Homo sapiens: one gene and its partners. The protein of the gene in region 1 interacts with the protein of each later gene in a pairwise test. Each region holds a gene or a part of one and is shown in the gene's direction. Other genes may lie near its edges.

Region 1 (3,500 bases):
CTCAGGTTCCTAAATCTATGCTCTTCCTGTCCTTGGAGCAAGGATAGGTCCTGCCAGATCCAGGGTGGCACAGAGTTCCCCACCCAAAGCTGGAAGGGGTGAAGAAGATCTGGCCCTGTTCCTTCCCCTCCCTGTACAAGGAGGCAAGGACCCTGGCGTGCCCAGCCTCCTTCTCCTTATTCTGGAGTGCACATCCAGTAATTAAGAAAACATGAGTGAAGAATGAGCTTGGACATCTCCCTTGCATCCTGGCCGAAAGGGCAGACGACGCATGTGCAGATCTCAAAAGGGTGATCATATAGTTGTGCAGCTTGTGTACTGCTCAACAATATCCATCTGAGAGAGTGAGTGTGGGCTAAGAGCCAGCTCTCTAGCTTCAGTGGCTCCTGCCTTACCTGAGCCCTCTTGCCTGCAGGTCCGTCCCCACCCTCAGGATCCAAGCCCTTCAGCAGCATGGGGGTAGTGCCATGGGTGGGAAATTCTGCTGTCTAACCCCGGTCACTCCCATTTAGGCTGCATCTGAGCCCACACCTGTGTGGAGAGGAACTGAAGGCAGATGAGGCAGGAGGCTCCCTAGGGGAAGGCCTACCTTGCCTGGACCGGGTTAGCAGCCCAGCTCTGGCCCGCGGGGAGGGCTGGGTGGGAACCACGTTCAGATTATTCCTTAATCATGCTGGGAACATAGTACAGGCCTGGGAACTCTCAAAGAGAATTTGCCAAGAAACTTAGCGGCACCAGCTGGGTTATGCCGGAAAGCCTCCCGGCCGGCCAGTGCTTCTGGAGCCTGGAGGATGCGGCTCCGGGCCTCCTCCCCCTTTCCCAGTTGGCTGCCACCAACTTTCACAGGCTAGGGGTCAGGGTCCCTTGGAAGAGGGTGGGAGCCGATGAGAAGGCTGAAGGAGGAAGTCAGCGTCCTGGCAGGCAATAGGGGAGGGAGAGACTCCAGCTCCTGCGTCCCGGGTGCCCAAAAGAGCAGACGACTAAATCTGGTGTCCGCTGCGCTCAGGCGTGACGTTCTCCGACGTGGTGAGCGCGACCGAGCCGTGCAAGCCGTGCACCGAGTGCGTGGGGCTCCAGAGCATGTCGGCGCCGTGCGTGGAGGCCGACGACGCCGTGTGCCGCTGCGCCTACGGCTACTACCAGGATGAGACGACTGGGCGCTGCGAGGCGTGCCGCGTGTGCGAGGCGGGCTCGGGCCTCGTGTTCTCCTGCCAGGACAAGCAGAACACCGTGTGCGAGGAGTGCCCCGACGGCACGTATTCCGACGAGGCCAACCACGTGGACCCGTGCCTGCCCTGCACCGTGTGCGAGGACACCGAGCGCCAGCTCCGCGAGTGCACACGCTGGGCCGACGCCGAGTGCGAGGGTGAGTGCGGTTCGGGGGGCGGGGGGAGTGGGGGTGCGGGGGTGGGCTGGGGGCATAAGGAAGGGCGCTCTCTGGAGGTCGACAAGGACCCTGCCTGGCCTGCTGGGGCAGCTTGGTGACCTTGAGGCAGCGTGCACCTTCCCTGAGCTTCAGTCCTTTCCTGGTAACCTAAGGGAGGAGGTCATTCCCCATCCTGTCTCAGCAAAGAACCCCTCTCTGTGTTACCTTCTTTGGGCTGTTTGGAAAGTGGGCGTTCTCAGCGTCCCAGGCCGCGGGTACTACATTGTAACTCATCCTCCGGGACGCATTTCTCTGTGGCTTCCCGCTAGTGATTAGCTGAACAGCAAGCAGCTCGAAGGTGGCCACTACCCCCAGGGCACAGAACGGGAGAGGTCTGATCCATGAGGCAGGCTTTCTGAACTGGAAGAGCAGCTTGAGGACCCTCAGGAGCTGGGACCCTTTGACTCTGAGCCCTGGTCTAGGTCCATGGTGGGTTTTGGCTCTGGGACCTGAGATGGAACCCACCCTGTCCTTGACTGACGTTAGGGAGTCCACTCCTGTCTCTGGGCCTCGGTTTCCTCACTGGTCATATGGCTGCCAGGGTTGTTGCGGGTTAGGGAATACAGTGGGGCTGGCCCACTTCAGCTTGCCCTGTCTAGGGGAGGGGTCAACCGTGTTCCGCAGTTTAGTGAAGGATGAGGGGCATGCAGGGAACACTAAGGAGGGGCTCTGTGGAAGAAGAAGGAGGGGAGGGGCAGACCTGGGGCTCAAAAGCCCGGGGACAAGGCAGTGCATGCTCGTGGCTGTCAGCTCCAGGGATGGATGGGAGCTGGGCGTGCCCACCTTAGCCAAGCACAGGCCCCAAGGAGATGGGGTGGTTCTTGGGATGGGAGAAGGAAGCCCCGTGGGAGCCAGGGCAGAGCTGTTTTGGTCTCTGGTTGGTGACGTCCGTCTCAGGGGAGACTGGTGGGCTTTTCCACTTCGGGGAGAGGCTGGCAGTGCCTTTACATCCTGTCCATCATCCTGTGGCCATGCACACATTGAGCTATTTCCCTTTGAGAACTAACCTGCATCCTCAGGTTGCCTTTACCCTGAGCAGGCAATATAGTACCTCCTTCAGTGAGCCCCCAGTTTGATGGGAGAGATAGCCTTCGCCCAGTCTAATGAGAGAGACGTGGTCCCAGCACTTAGTCCCCAGCTGAAGGAGAGATAGCTCTCACTTTAGAGATCCCCCATTCTGATGGAGGCAGCAGAGCTTCTGCCTCAGTTAGCACCCAGATCTCCTGCCCCTGGGGACCCTCCAGTCTGATAGGGGCTCCAACCCACACCTGCCTTCCAAGTCCTGCCATCTCTGGCTTTAGGAGCTCAGGATGGGGAGGGCTGTTACGCTGGGCTAAGGCCAGGTTGAGCTCAAAGCTTCCTGCCTTGGAGAAGGAATGAGGAGTAGGATGTGGTGGTTCTGTTGGCAATTGCCCTGGGCCAGGAGACAGGCAAGTGGCATCAGGCGCCAGGCAGAGCGCAGGAAGGGTTTCAGCAGCCAGGCATCAGGCAAGCAGGCAGCTCATTTCTGTAGGCAAGTCCAGACCAGCCAGCTGGGGGCGGGGCGGGGGGACTTGGGGGCGCTGCTAGAGCAAAGAAAGGTGGTGACTGTGGGAGGAGCAGGCTTTGTCTTTTGGGGCATTCACAGATTCCTCTCAGATACCAGCCCACTTTCCCAGCCACCCCGAAGGAGGAGGGTGCTCCTGAGGGAGTGTTCATACCAGACCCTGTTCCCCTTTCAGCTTCAGGCTCTGAAGGGTTAAATGTCAGCTCTGGGACAAGAGACCATTTCAGGAAATGGAATTTGATTCTTGGTTTTGTTGCCCCCTCCCCTCCAGCGTACCATACTTTCCCCGCATTTACTTACGTTTCAGGTGTCAACATGGTGACTCACCCACCCTCAGGGCAGAAGGGCTACCCGCTGCCCCAGTGAAATTCGGTTTGAATAGGGATAACCTGGTCCCTCCATGCAGCCCGGAAATGGCTGTCAGGACCTGCCAAGGGCTTAGTAGGTTGGAATGCTAGTGGACGTGGCCACATCTGGATCTCATCCCCCCGCCCCCGTCAGAGGGGATTGGAGAGATGAGGGCAGCTC
Region 2 (3,542 bases), on another chromosome or scaffold:
GAGTCAACTTCCTGCTTACTCCAACTCTGTATCTTTGAAGGAAGTATAGGGTGGTCTATGCCTTTTTTCTCCCAGAATCTACACTTGAAAAGACACATTTTTCCATGCAACTATAAAATGTTCTCCTCACTCAACATTGAAATTGTATAGCAGTGATTAAGAGAGTGAGCTGTAGAGCCAGGTTCCCTGGGTTTAAATCCCACTTGTTAGTATCATGAAGATGGGCAAGTTACTTACCCTTCCTGTGTTTCAGTTTCTTCATCTGCAAAATGGGGACAATAATAGAATGTCCACTATAAGATTATTGTGAGGATTAAGGGAATTAATACAGGTAAAACGTGTACTGATGCAGGTCTGGTACACATTAAGTGCCTAATAAATATTCAGTATTATGATATAAAGAACCCTATAAGTGTAGACTCCTTGAGATTAATAGAGTTTAACGATAAGTTTTACTTTATAGCTGGTCAAGTTTATTTCTTCTGAACTAAAAGAATCTATAGAGTCTCAATTTCTGGAGCTTCAGAGGGAAGGAGAGAAGCAATGTAAGCAACATTCTACAGAAATATAAATAATACTACTAATAATTAGCATCTTAAAATTTCAATTCAATGAACATTTATTTAGCGCCTATGATATATGCAAGACAGTTTGATTTTAGTCATCTGATGTATAGCCACATACTAAAAAATACTGATTTTAGTCATCTGATGTATAGCCACATACTAAAAAATACTTCCTCCATCAGTTCCCTCCTCAGGAAGTTCAGTTCCCAATCCCAGGCTAGTACCTTGGTTCCTTATGTAAATAAACATCCACCAATTACATGCTATCTGCAAAGCACTCTGCTAGGCCCTGCAAATGGAAAAAAAAATGATAAAACATAGTCCAGGCCCTCAATGAGCTTACAGTCAAATATAATAGAGGAGACAAGAACAGAGAGGCTCATAATACAACTAGAATAAAATGACTGCCGAATAAAAGGAAAGATTTATGCAGGTGTTCAAATGGAAAGTGAGATAAGTTTGCAGGTTAGTCTTTGCAGTCTCATAAAAATCTTTATGGAGAAAAGGACAATGGTCATAGGGCTTAAAGAGTAAGTTTATAATCCTGACCAGTGGAGATGAAAGACTAGCATTGAAAATTGCATGACAAGACAATTCCATTAAACTGAAACATCAAGTGTGTGTAGGAAAAGATGGGGGTTATGACTGGAAACGTCACTTGGACTGCAATTATGAAGGGCCTTGACAAACAGGTCAAGAGTTTAAGAAGCAGTATAGAAAGTCTTCGTCCTGGATCTAGCCCTCCCAGAGTGTCCATCAGGATTATAAAGTCCTTAAAATATTAGTCAAAAGGAACGACATCATTAGAAATGATAGAGAAACAATAATGTGATGTTTTATTACCTTTCTCTGGATTTATACTCTGATCCTAATATTCAAAACTATCTTAATAACATGAACTTTTGGTCATAGTTTTAAACAAAAACAGTGTTAAATATATTTTTTAAAACACAGTAAGTCTTGTAAGATCTTTTCTAACATGACATTTTGCAGGGCCCATATTTTCCTTCTGAAATGGGAAAAATTCATAAAAGTAGACACCAAACTGGGTTACTTCTAGTCAAGCGCATGGTACGCAAAGGACCAGACAAAAAGGGCCTGTGACATTTCTTCTTCCTTTTGTGTTTTTTAGGAGAGGCATGCTGCGGAGGTGCGCAGGAACAAGGAACTCCAGGTTGAACTGTCTGGCTGAAGCAAGGGAGGGTCTGGCACGCCCCACCAATAGTAAATCCCCCTGCCTATATTATAATGGATCATGCGATATCAGGATGGGGAATGTATGACATGGTTTAAAAAGAACTCATTATAAAAAAAAAAAAACAAAAAAAATCAAAAATTAAAAAAAATCAATGCGGTCTCTTTGCAGAATGTTTTGCTTGATGTTTAAAAAATACCTTGGATCTTATTTTGTAAATACTTACATTTTTGTTAAAAAATACAAGTATTGCATTATGCAAGTTATTTCATAATCTTACATGTCCTGTAACAGGCTTTTGATGTTGTGTCTTTCCACTCAAATGAATTTGCTAGGTCTGTTCTTTTTGAAGCTCCCCATGTCTAACTCCATTCCAAAAGAAAAATGAGGTCAGTAGACAGTCTATGGTGCTAGAAACCCACCATTGCCTAATGACCTAGAAGGCTTTGTTGTCTCTGAGCTTGACTAAGACCATACCTAGATCACAGGTATTATGACTCCACATGAACCTTCACATTTGTTCGCTCATAATCTACTTACTGCCTAAAAACTACAAAACCAGGCTAAGAAATACCACCAGTCATAGCATTTACTTCTGCTTCTCCTGGATTATGTGCTACAAATGTGCTTTGGCTTTAGAAAGGGATGGATGAGAAGACAGACCTGAGACCAATCTGGGTAGAAGCAAAAAGTTGAACCTTTTAAAGTGCTGAACACAAATCCAAATTCGAATGGTTCAAGCAGCCGTGAAATCGCTCTTCATAAAGTGGGCTTAATTCTCTAGTTTAAGTTCTTTTGATGGAATGAATTAATTAATGTGTCAGGTGGCTTATTTGTGGATGCCATGATTGATGATGTTCATTTTAAGCTCTTACCTATAGTACAAGTACATGATGCTACTGAATATTTTTCCACTTGGAAACTGTGAGCTGGTTGTTGCATTAAAACACACATACAAACAAAATCAAAAACACTGCGGACTTTCACTCAAGCTGGTCTTTCTTCCCCAGTGTAAGGCAATCCTGCCTACTAACAACACCAACAACAAAACACTCCATCTGTGAAGCTGACGCAGTTAAGGGGGCTAGGCAGGGCATTTGTGCCAACTAAGAATCACCAGATACCCACCATAAGTACCTATCGCAGTTTTGAAGTCGTTTCTCCCCAACTCCCAACTCCTGAAGGTTGCTGCCTGCATATTTACTCTTCATTAGTGCTATTTTCCTGTATGTCATTGTGAGCAAGCTGTGATTAATAAAGAATTGGAGTTCTGTGAACTAATAAAGGTTTGGTCTGTTCTCTTGCCTCTTCATGTGTCTGACCCTGGAGTTCAGATTTTAAAAGGGCAGCCACTGAATTAGACAATCTCACAAGCAAAGAGATAATAAGGAGAGTTTGAAGGAAACCAGTGCCCTGCTGAGTCATTTCCCTTTGGGAACAGCAGGCCGCATCTCTTTTCTCTTGCCCTCTGATGGGCCAACACTGTGGGAGAGGTCTTCAATCTGCTCCCTTTAAAAACATACAGGACTGAACAAGATACCACAAAATGCAGACTGATAATTCTGAGGAAGTGAGCCCTTTTCAAAACATTGAAGGTTCCTGGCATTATCTCAAGTTCTCCCCTGTGGCCCACAGAACGCCTCCCCCAGCCTAGGCCGTCTGTTAAGATGTGATCCCTGACGTACTGCTGAATTTTGTACTGCCAATAAACACACTGCACACATGGGCGCAGCAGGGTCCTGTCAGTGACCCAAATGGATCTTACAGGACCAAAGGAACCA
Region 3 (3,500 bases), on another chromosome or scaffold:
CTGATCACCTGAGGGGTCGGGAGTTCGAGACCGGCCTGACCAACATGGAGAAACCCTGTCTCTATTAAAATTACAAAATTAGCTGGACATGGTGGTGCATGCCTGTAATCCCAGCTACTCGGGAGGCTGAGGCAGGAGAATTGTTTGAACCTGGGAGGCGGAGGTTGCAGTGAGCCGAGATCGCGCCATTGCACTCCAGCCTGGGCAACAAGAGCGAAACTCTGTCTCAAAAAAAAAAAAAAAAAAAAAAAAAGGAAGTAATCAGAATATCAGAATTATATTTTTTTCTTTTCTTTTCTTTTCTTTTTTTTTTTTTTTTTTTTTTTTTTTTTTTTTTTTTTTTTTTTTTTTTTGAGACAGAGTCTTGCTCTATCACCCAGGTTGGAGTGCAATGACACAATCTCGGCTCAGTGCAACCTCTGCCTCTCGGGCTCAAGCAATTCTCCTTCCTCAGCCTCCCGAGTAGCTGGGATTACAGGCATGCGCCACCACACCTGGTTAATTTTTGTATTTTTAGTAGAGACGGGGTTTCACCATGTTGGCCAGGCTGGTTGTGAATTTCTGATCTCAGGTGATCCGCCCGTCTGGGCCTCCCAGAGTGCTGGATTGCAGGCTTGAGCCGCCACGTCTGGCCTCTTTTCTTTTTTCTTTGTTTTGAGACGGAGTCTCGCTTTGTCGCCCAGGCTGGAGTGCAGTGGCGCGATCTCGGCTCACTGCAAGCTCTGCCTCCCTGATTCACGCCATTCTCCTGCCTCTGTCTCCCGAGTAGCTGGGACTACAGGCGCCCGCTACAACGCCCGGCTAATTTTTTGTATTTTTTGGTAGAGACGGCATTTCACCGTGTTAGCCGGAATGGTCTCGATCTCCTGACCTCGTGATCGCCCGCCTTGGCCTCCCAAAGTGCTGGGATTACAGGCATGAGCCACCGCGCCCGGCCTCTTTTCTTTTTTAATTAGAGACGAGATCCTGCTCTGTCACCCAGGCCAGAGTGCAATGGCATCGTCTTAGCTCATTACAGCCTCAACTTCCTGGGCTCAGGTGATTTCTTCCACCTCAGCCTCGCAAGTAGCTGGTACTAGAGGCTTGTGCCACCACGCCCAGCTAATTTTTGTATTTTTTGTAGGGACGGGGTTTCACCGTGTTGCCCAAGCTGGTCCTGAGCTCAAGCGATCTGCCCACCTGGGCCTACCAAAGTGCTAGGATTACTGGCATGAATTACCATGCCTGGCCCAGAATAGTATATTGAGTGCCCATTTACTTGCCACACAGTTTCAATGATTATCAGCTTGTGGCCAGACTTGTTTATCTCTATTTGCATCCGCTCTCTGACTCCTTGATTATTTTAATGCAAGTCGCAGACCATAAATGATTTCATTCATAAGTATTTGAGTATGTGGCCTGGCTCCTGCCCACTTCTCCATCCCCATCTGGTGCCACTGCCCTTCTGGATTTCACTGGCACGGGGCAGGCAGGACTGGCTGATAAGTGCCCTGTCCCTCCCTTCTAGGACAATAACGGTGTGATTGGACTGTTGGAGCCCATGAAGAAGAGCATGGTGCCTGTGCAGGTGCAGCTGGATGTGCCTGTGGTAAAGGTGGCCTCAGGTGGGTCTGGGGGCACTTGCTCAGGGCAGGAGTTGGAGGACCTTGTTCTGGGGCTGGCCTAGCCTTGGGCCTTACAGTTGTGGCCTGCATCCCTTACCTTTTCATCCTTAGGAAACGACCACTTGGTGATGCTGACAGCTGATGGTGACCTCTACACCTTGGGCTGCGGGGAACAGGGCCAGCTAGGCCGTGTGCCTGAGTTATTTGCCAACCGTGGTGGCCGGCAAGGCCTCGGTAAGTGGCCTTGGTACCTCCAGCAGGGCAAATTGGCAGGCCACCCCCACAGTGAAGGCCAAAGGCAGGAAGGATTTGCTGTGGTCAGGCTTGCATCAGATGGGCTTGTGGTGTTGGTTAGGACTTTGGAGACAGACTGCTCTGGTAGTTTTGCCACCTACTGTCTATGGGACTCTGAACATAGTTTCTTCATCACTAAGTCTACCTACCTGTAAACCTACTTCATTAGGTTGCTGTGAAGTTAAATGAGTTAATGAGAAGAATATCAGGCAGATGGTAAGTTCCACGTAAATGATACCCGTAATGACTGTGGGAATCTGAGCAAGGCACTTGTATTCTCTTGATCTCAGTTTCCTTTTCTATAAAATAGGGATAAGAGTCCCTACTTAGCCTCTCAAGGGCTTTTATAATGGAGGAGAATTAAACTCGGGGCAGAGAGAAGCCATGTGTGTCTGTCTGTCACTGACCGTGGCTTTCCCTTTGCCTGCAGAACGACTCCTGGTCCCCAAGTGTGTGATGCTGAAATCCAGGGGAAGCCGGGGCCACGTGAGATTCCAGGATGCCTTTTGTGGTGCCTATTTCACCTTTGCCATCTCCCATGAGGGCCACGTGTACGGCTTCGGCCTCTCCAACTACCATCAGCTTGGTGAGCCCCGAGCCCAGCTTCAGGCATGACCCAGTGGCCTGCGTTCCTGTCCTGGCTCTGCCACTCATTCATTGTGCATCCTTTGCGGGGTCGTCTAACCCCTCCAAGCCAGTTTTGTCATCTGTAAAGTGAGAATGTCCATATCCTGATGGGAGGTGGCCTCACTGTGGGAGGAGATTGAGAAGGGCAGCTCTCAGAACACCTTCACCCCTGATGGCTCCGGCCTTTCCCCCAGGAACTCCGGGCACAGAATCTTGCTTCATACCCCAGAACCTAACATCCTTCAAGAATTCCACCAAGTCCTGGGTGGGCTTCTCTGGTGGCCAGCACCATACAGTCTGCATGGATTCGGAAGGTAGGGCCTTTACGTCCTTCTCTAGTTTGGGGGTGGAGTGTTCCCTGGCCTAGGCCTAGCCAGATTCCTGAGACCATGGTCCTTGGAGCCTGGGTCTGTTCCATGGGTTGTACCATACATGGGTCCATGAGAGTCACTCTCATCCTCCTAGAGTCCTGGTGTTCTTCCAAGTGTGAGTTCAATGGGGGCCCATGTAGATTCTCCTAGGCCTCCTCCAAAACTGGGAAGAGACACTGCAGATCTCCTTCTGATCGCTCTGGGAGCAGGGACACACTCCCATGGACAGGTGGACTCACCTAGCCTGCCACCCATTTTGCCTGTAGCACGCCCTCTGCTATTGCTCATCTCTCTCCCTCCTCCCATAGGAAAAGCATACAGCCTGGGCCGGGCTGAGTATGGGCGGCTGGGCCTTGGAGAGGGTGCTGAGGAGAAGAGCATACCCACCCTCATCTCCAGGCTGCCTGCTGTCTCCTCGGTGGCTTGTGGGGCCTCTGTGGGGTATGCTGTGACCAAGGATGGTGAGTGGGGCTGCCTACACTCTGTCTAGTTGGGACCTGGGGGTCATGGTTCTTACCCAATTCCCCAATAGGCTGTGATGTCCACTCTCGGGGGAGCCGAGGTACAGAGAGCAGTGTTTGTGATGGCACTTTGTTCCTGCTTC
Region 4 (3,500 bases), on another chromosome or scaffold:
TTTATTTTAGGTCAACATTCAAACATACAAGAAATGTGTTGTTACAATTAAAATTTTTTTAAAAAGTAGTGGAGCATCATCTTCATCCCATCCCTCTTAAGCCCTGACTTGAACACCCTAAGAAACTTCTTGAATTATTCTGGGCTGGCCGCACACCTGTAATTCCAGCACTTTGGGAGGCCAAGGCAGGGGGATCACTTGAGGCCAAGAATTCGATACCAGCCTGGGCAACATAGCAAGACCCCCGTCTCTACAAAAGTAAGAAATTAGCTGGGCATGGTGGCACATGGCTGTAGTGCTAGCTACTCAGGAGGCTGAGGCAGGAGGATTGCTTGGGCTCAGGAATTCAAGGTTACTGTGAGCTATGTTTGTGCCACTGCACTCCAGCCTGAACAACAGAGTGAGAGCCTATCTCTAAAAAATAAAAAATTGGGGGAAACTATTGAATTATTTCATAGCTTTGTATTTTAAATTGTTTTATCTTTTAATTTTGACATAATTTTAGACTTGCAAAATAGTACAAATAATTTGTATATACCCTTTACTCAGATTCTCCAAATGTTAACTTCCTACATAAACACAATGCAATGATCAAAATCAGGAAATAACATCGATATAGTACTGTTACCCAACCTACAGACCTTATTTCAGTTTCACCAGTTGTCTCAATGATGTCCTTTTTCTGGTTCAGGATCAAATCCAGAATGCAATGTTGTATTTATTGTCATGTCTCTTAAGTCTCCTTTAATCTGAAATAGTTCCTCAGTCTTTGTTGTTCATGCCCTTGATGCTTTTGAAGAACACTGTCAGTTATTTTATAAAATATTTCTTAATTTGGGTTTGTCTGATATTTTCTCATGGTTAAATCCAGGTCATGCCTTTTTGGCAAGAGTACCACAGAAATGATTTTGTGCCCCCAGTGCATCATATCAGGAGACACTTATTATTGACTTATTCCATTACTGGTGATAATTAATTTTGATCATTTAAGTTGGTGCCTGCAAGGTTTCTCTGCTATAATGTTATAGGTTATACAAATATCCTGTTTCTTTATACTTTTGCCACCTAATTTTAGCACCCACTGTTGATTCTTGCCTGAAACAGTTACTACCATAGTATTTGCTAAATGGCAATTTTTAATTTTCATATAGATTTATTTCATGTATAATAATCAGGGTCCATATAGGAAATTAAGAGAGATTACTAAAATTATATTGCTGGTTTGAAATCTCACTGGGCATTCATGTGCTACTTCACTAAAGCCATTTTATATTCTTCTGTTTTTAAATCAAACATTGTCGCTCATCTCACACCATTCAGGGATCAGTCTTCTTTTTTCTTCCTATTCTACCAAAAAGGAAACTATAGTAAGATTGTGACTTTAATTTCACAAGTTTGGCCATCTTGTCTCCTGGAAGTTTGGTGTCTGGCTATCTGTTGGCAGGAGAAAAATCTGTCCTGAAGGGGGATAGGTCTTTCCTGTCTGTTCCATAATGAGCTCTGGTAATAAAATGCTCATATCCTTGCCTTAAAACCCAAACATTGGCCTTCTTACTTAAGATTGATGTCTGGGGAAGTCTTTAAGTTTCCTCATTAGAAACTTACTGGAAATGCTGACACGGATTTTATGCCTTTTATTTTCAGCCTGCCACAGTGACTCAGGTCACTCAAGGAACTATCCGACCAGCTGCCAACTTCGATGCTATAAGAGATGCAGAAATTCTTCGTAAGGCAATGAAGGGTTTTGGTAAGGAAAACAAATTTTTGTCTTTTTTAATAAGTTAAAGTAATCAGTTCTAAAGTAAAAATAAACCTTATCTCATAAACCCAAGTTTATGTGTCAGCCTGGGTGCGCATACCTGGATTTAATCTGATGTCTAGTGCCTTGTAAGCATTCTAAGAGATGACCTCAGGCTGGGTGTGGTGGCTTACACCTGTAGTCCCAGCACTTTAGGAGGCCGAGGTGGGCAGATCACCTGAGTTCAAGACCAGCCTGGCCAACATGGCGAAACTCCATCTGTACTAAAAATAAAAAGTAAAATAGTTGGGCATGGTGATGCATGCCTGTAATCCCAGCTTCACGGGAAGCTGAGGCAGGAGAATTGCTTGAACCTGGGAGGTGGAGATTGCAGTCAGCCTAGATCACACCATTGCACTTGCACCCCCAGTCTGGGTGACAAACTCCGTCTCAAAAAAAAAAAAAAAAAAAAAAGATGACCTCAAGCAGCACCTAGCATGTACTTTGTCCTTACTTAAACATGTGTGGTTCTTCCAGGGACAGATGAGCAGGCAATTGTGGATGTGGTGGCCAACCGTTCCAATGATCAGAGGCAAAAAATTAAAGCAGCATTTAAGACCTCCTATGGCAAGGTATGTTTTTCTTTCCTGGAATGAGCACCAGCAGTGGCTGGTAGACTCTGCATTCATGTCAGATTGGATACTATATTTTGATTAGTACCTGTGGTGCAAAAGAGGGACAACTAGACTTTAGAGACCTCAAGGGTACTGTATTCCCTATTTCTGTTTTTTGTTTTGTTTTGTTTTGAGATGAAGTCTCGCACCAACATCCAGGCTGGAGTGCAATGGTGCGATCTCAGCTCACTGCCGTCTTTGCTTCCCGAGTTCAAGCAATTCTCCTGCCTCAGCCTCCTGAGTAGCTGGGACTACAGGTGCACAGCATCATGCCTGGCTAATTTTTGTATTTTTAGTAGAGACAGAGTTTCACCATGTTGGCCAGGCTGGTCTCTAACTCCTGACCTCAAGTGATCCGCCTGCCTCAGCCTCCCAAAGTGCTGGGATTACAGGCGTGAGCCACCATGCCTGGCCTATTTCTCTTAAAAGGCTTTTTCATTCTAGAGTAGTCCTTGATCTCATAATCATACCTTACCCCAGTCACATATGTGATAGACATTCAGTAGAAAGTAGATCACAACTACAATCATGATCAAGAGGATGGTTCTCAGTCTTCTGCCTGTTACAGTGGGATTCAAGGCTTATTACATAGCCCTTGTTTATTCTTGGTCCTGGGCATCGCCTTCTGCTTCTCTCCCTTTCTCTAAACGTGTCCTATGTTAAAATTATATGGACTGAGCGTGGTGGCTTACGCCTGTAATCCCAGCACTTTGGGAGGCCAAAGCAGGAGAATTTCTTGAGGCCAGGAGTTCAGGACCAGCCTGGGCAACATAGGGAGACTTCATTTCCAACAACGATGACAACAAATTATATTAGCTGGGCGTGGTGGCGTGTGTCCATAGTCCCAGCTGCTTGGGAGGCTGAGGTAGAAAGATTGCTTGAGCCCAGGAAGTCAGGCTGTTAGTGAGCTGTGATTGTGTTACTGCACTGTAGCCTAGGTGACAGAACAAGACGCTGTCTCAAAAAAAAATAATATGGAAATGCTTGCCATTCTCTGTACACGCCATGATCTTTTATGCTTCTGTGTTGTGTACATGCCATTCTCCTGGCCTTGAATACCTTTTCTTTTTTTCATGGCAAACTTCTTT

The links. The genes of interacting proteins can lie anywhere in the genome.
Region 2: the proteins of NGFR (region 1) and STMN2 interact in a two-hybrid assay, tested with the Homo sapiens proteins (one large-scale study listed by BioGRID and IntAct).
Region 3: the proteins of NGFR (region 1) and RCC1 interact in a two-hybrid assay, tested with the Homo sapiens proteins (one large-scale study listed by BioGRID and IntAct).
Region 4: the proteins of NGFR (region 1) and ANXA7 interact in a two-hybrid assay, tested with the Homo sapiens proteins (one large-scale study listed by BioGRID and IntAct).

What each region holds. Positions count from the first base shown.
Region 1 is NC_000017.11:49,505,293-49,508,792, forward strand, and holds part of NGFR (tumor necrosis factor receptor superfamily member 16 precursor), read left to right. Parts: intron 1-364; exon of another isoform or gene 365-1,006; coding exon 1,007-1,366; intron 1,367-3,500. UniProt on the Homo sapiens protein: Low affinity receptor which can bind to NGF, BDNF, NTF3, and NTF4. Forms a heterodimeric receptor with SORCS2 that binds the precursor forms of NGF, BDNF and NTF3 with high affinity, and has much lower affinity for mature NGF and BDNF.
Region 2 is NC_000008.11:79,663,117-79,666,658, forward strand, and holds the end of STMN2 (stathmin-2), read left to right. Parts: intron 1-463; coding exon of another isoform or gene 464-545; intron 546-1,698; coding exon 1,699-1,758; 3' UTR 1,759-3,042; downstream 3,043-3,542. UniProt on the Homo sapiens protein: Regulator of microtubule stability. When phosphorylated by MAPK8, stabilizes microtubules and consequently controls neurite length in cortical neurons.
Region 3 is NC_000001.11:28,533,543-28,537,042, forward strand, and holds part of RCC1 (regulator of chromosome condensation), read left to right. Parts: intron 1-1,507; coding exon 1,508-1,604; intron 1,605-1,715; coding exon 1,716-1,838; intron 1,839-2,328; coding exon 2,329-2,484; intron 2,485-2,719; coding exon 2,720-2,839; intron 2,840-3,204; coding exon 3,205-3,357; intron 3,358-3,500. UniProt on the Homo sapiens protein: Guanine-nucleotide releasing factor that promotes the exchange of Ran-bound GDP by GTP, and thereby plays an important role in RAN-mediated functions in nuclear import and mitosis.
Region 4 is NC_000010.11:73,386,559-73,390,058, reverse strand, and holds part of ANXA7 (annexin A7), read left to right. Parts: intron 1-1,644; coding exon 1,645-1,747; intron 1,748-2,275; coding exon 2,276-2,370; intron 2,371-3,500. UniProt on the Homo sapiens protein: Calcium/phospholipid-binding protein which promotes membrane fusion and is involved in exocytosis.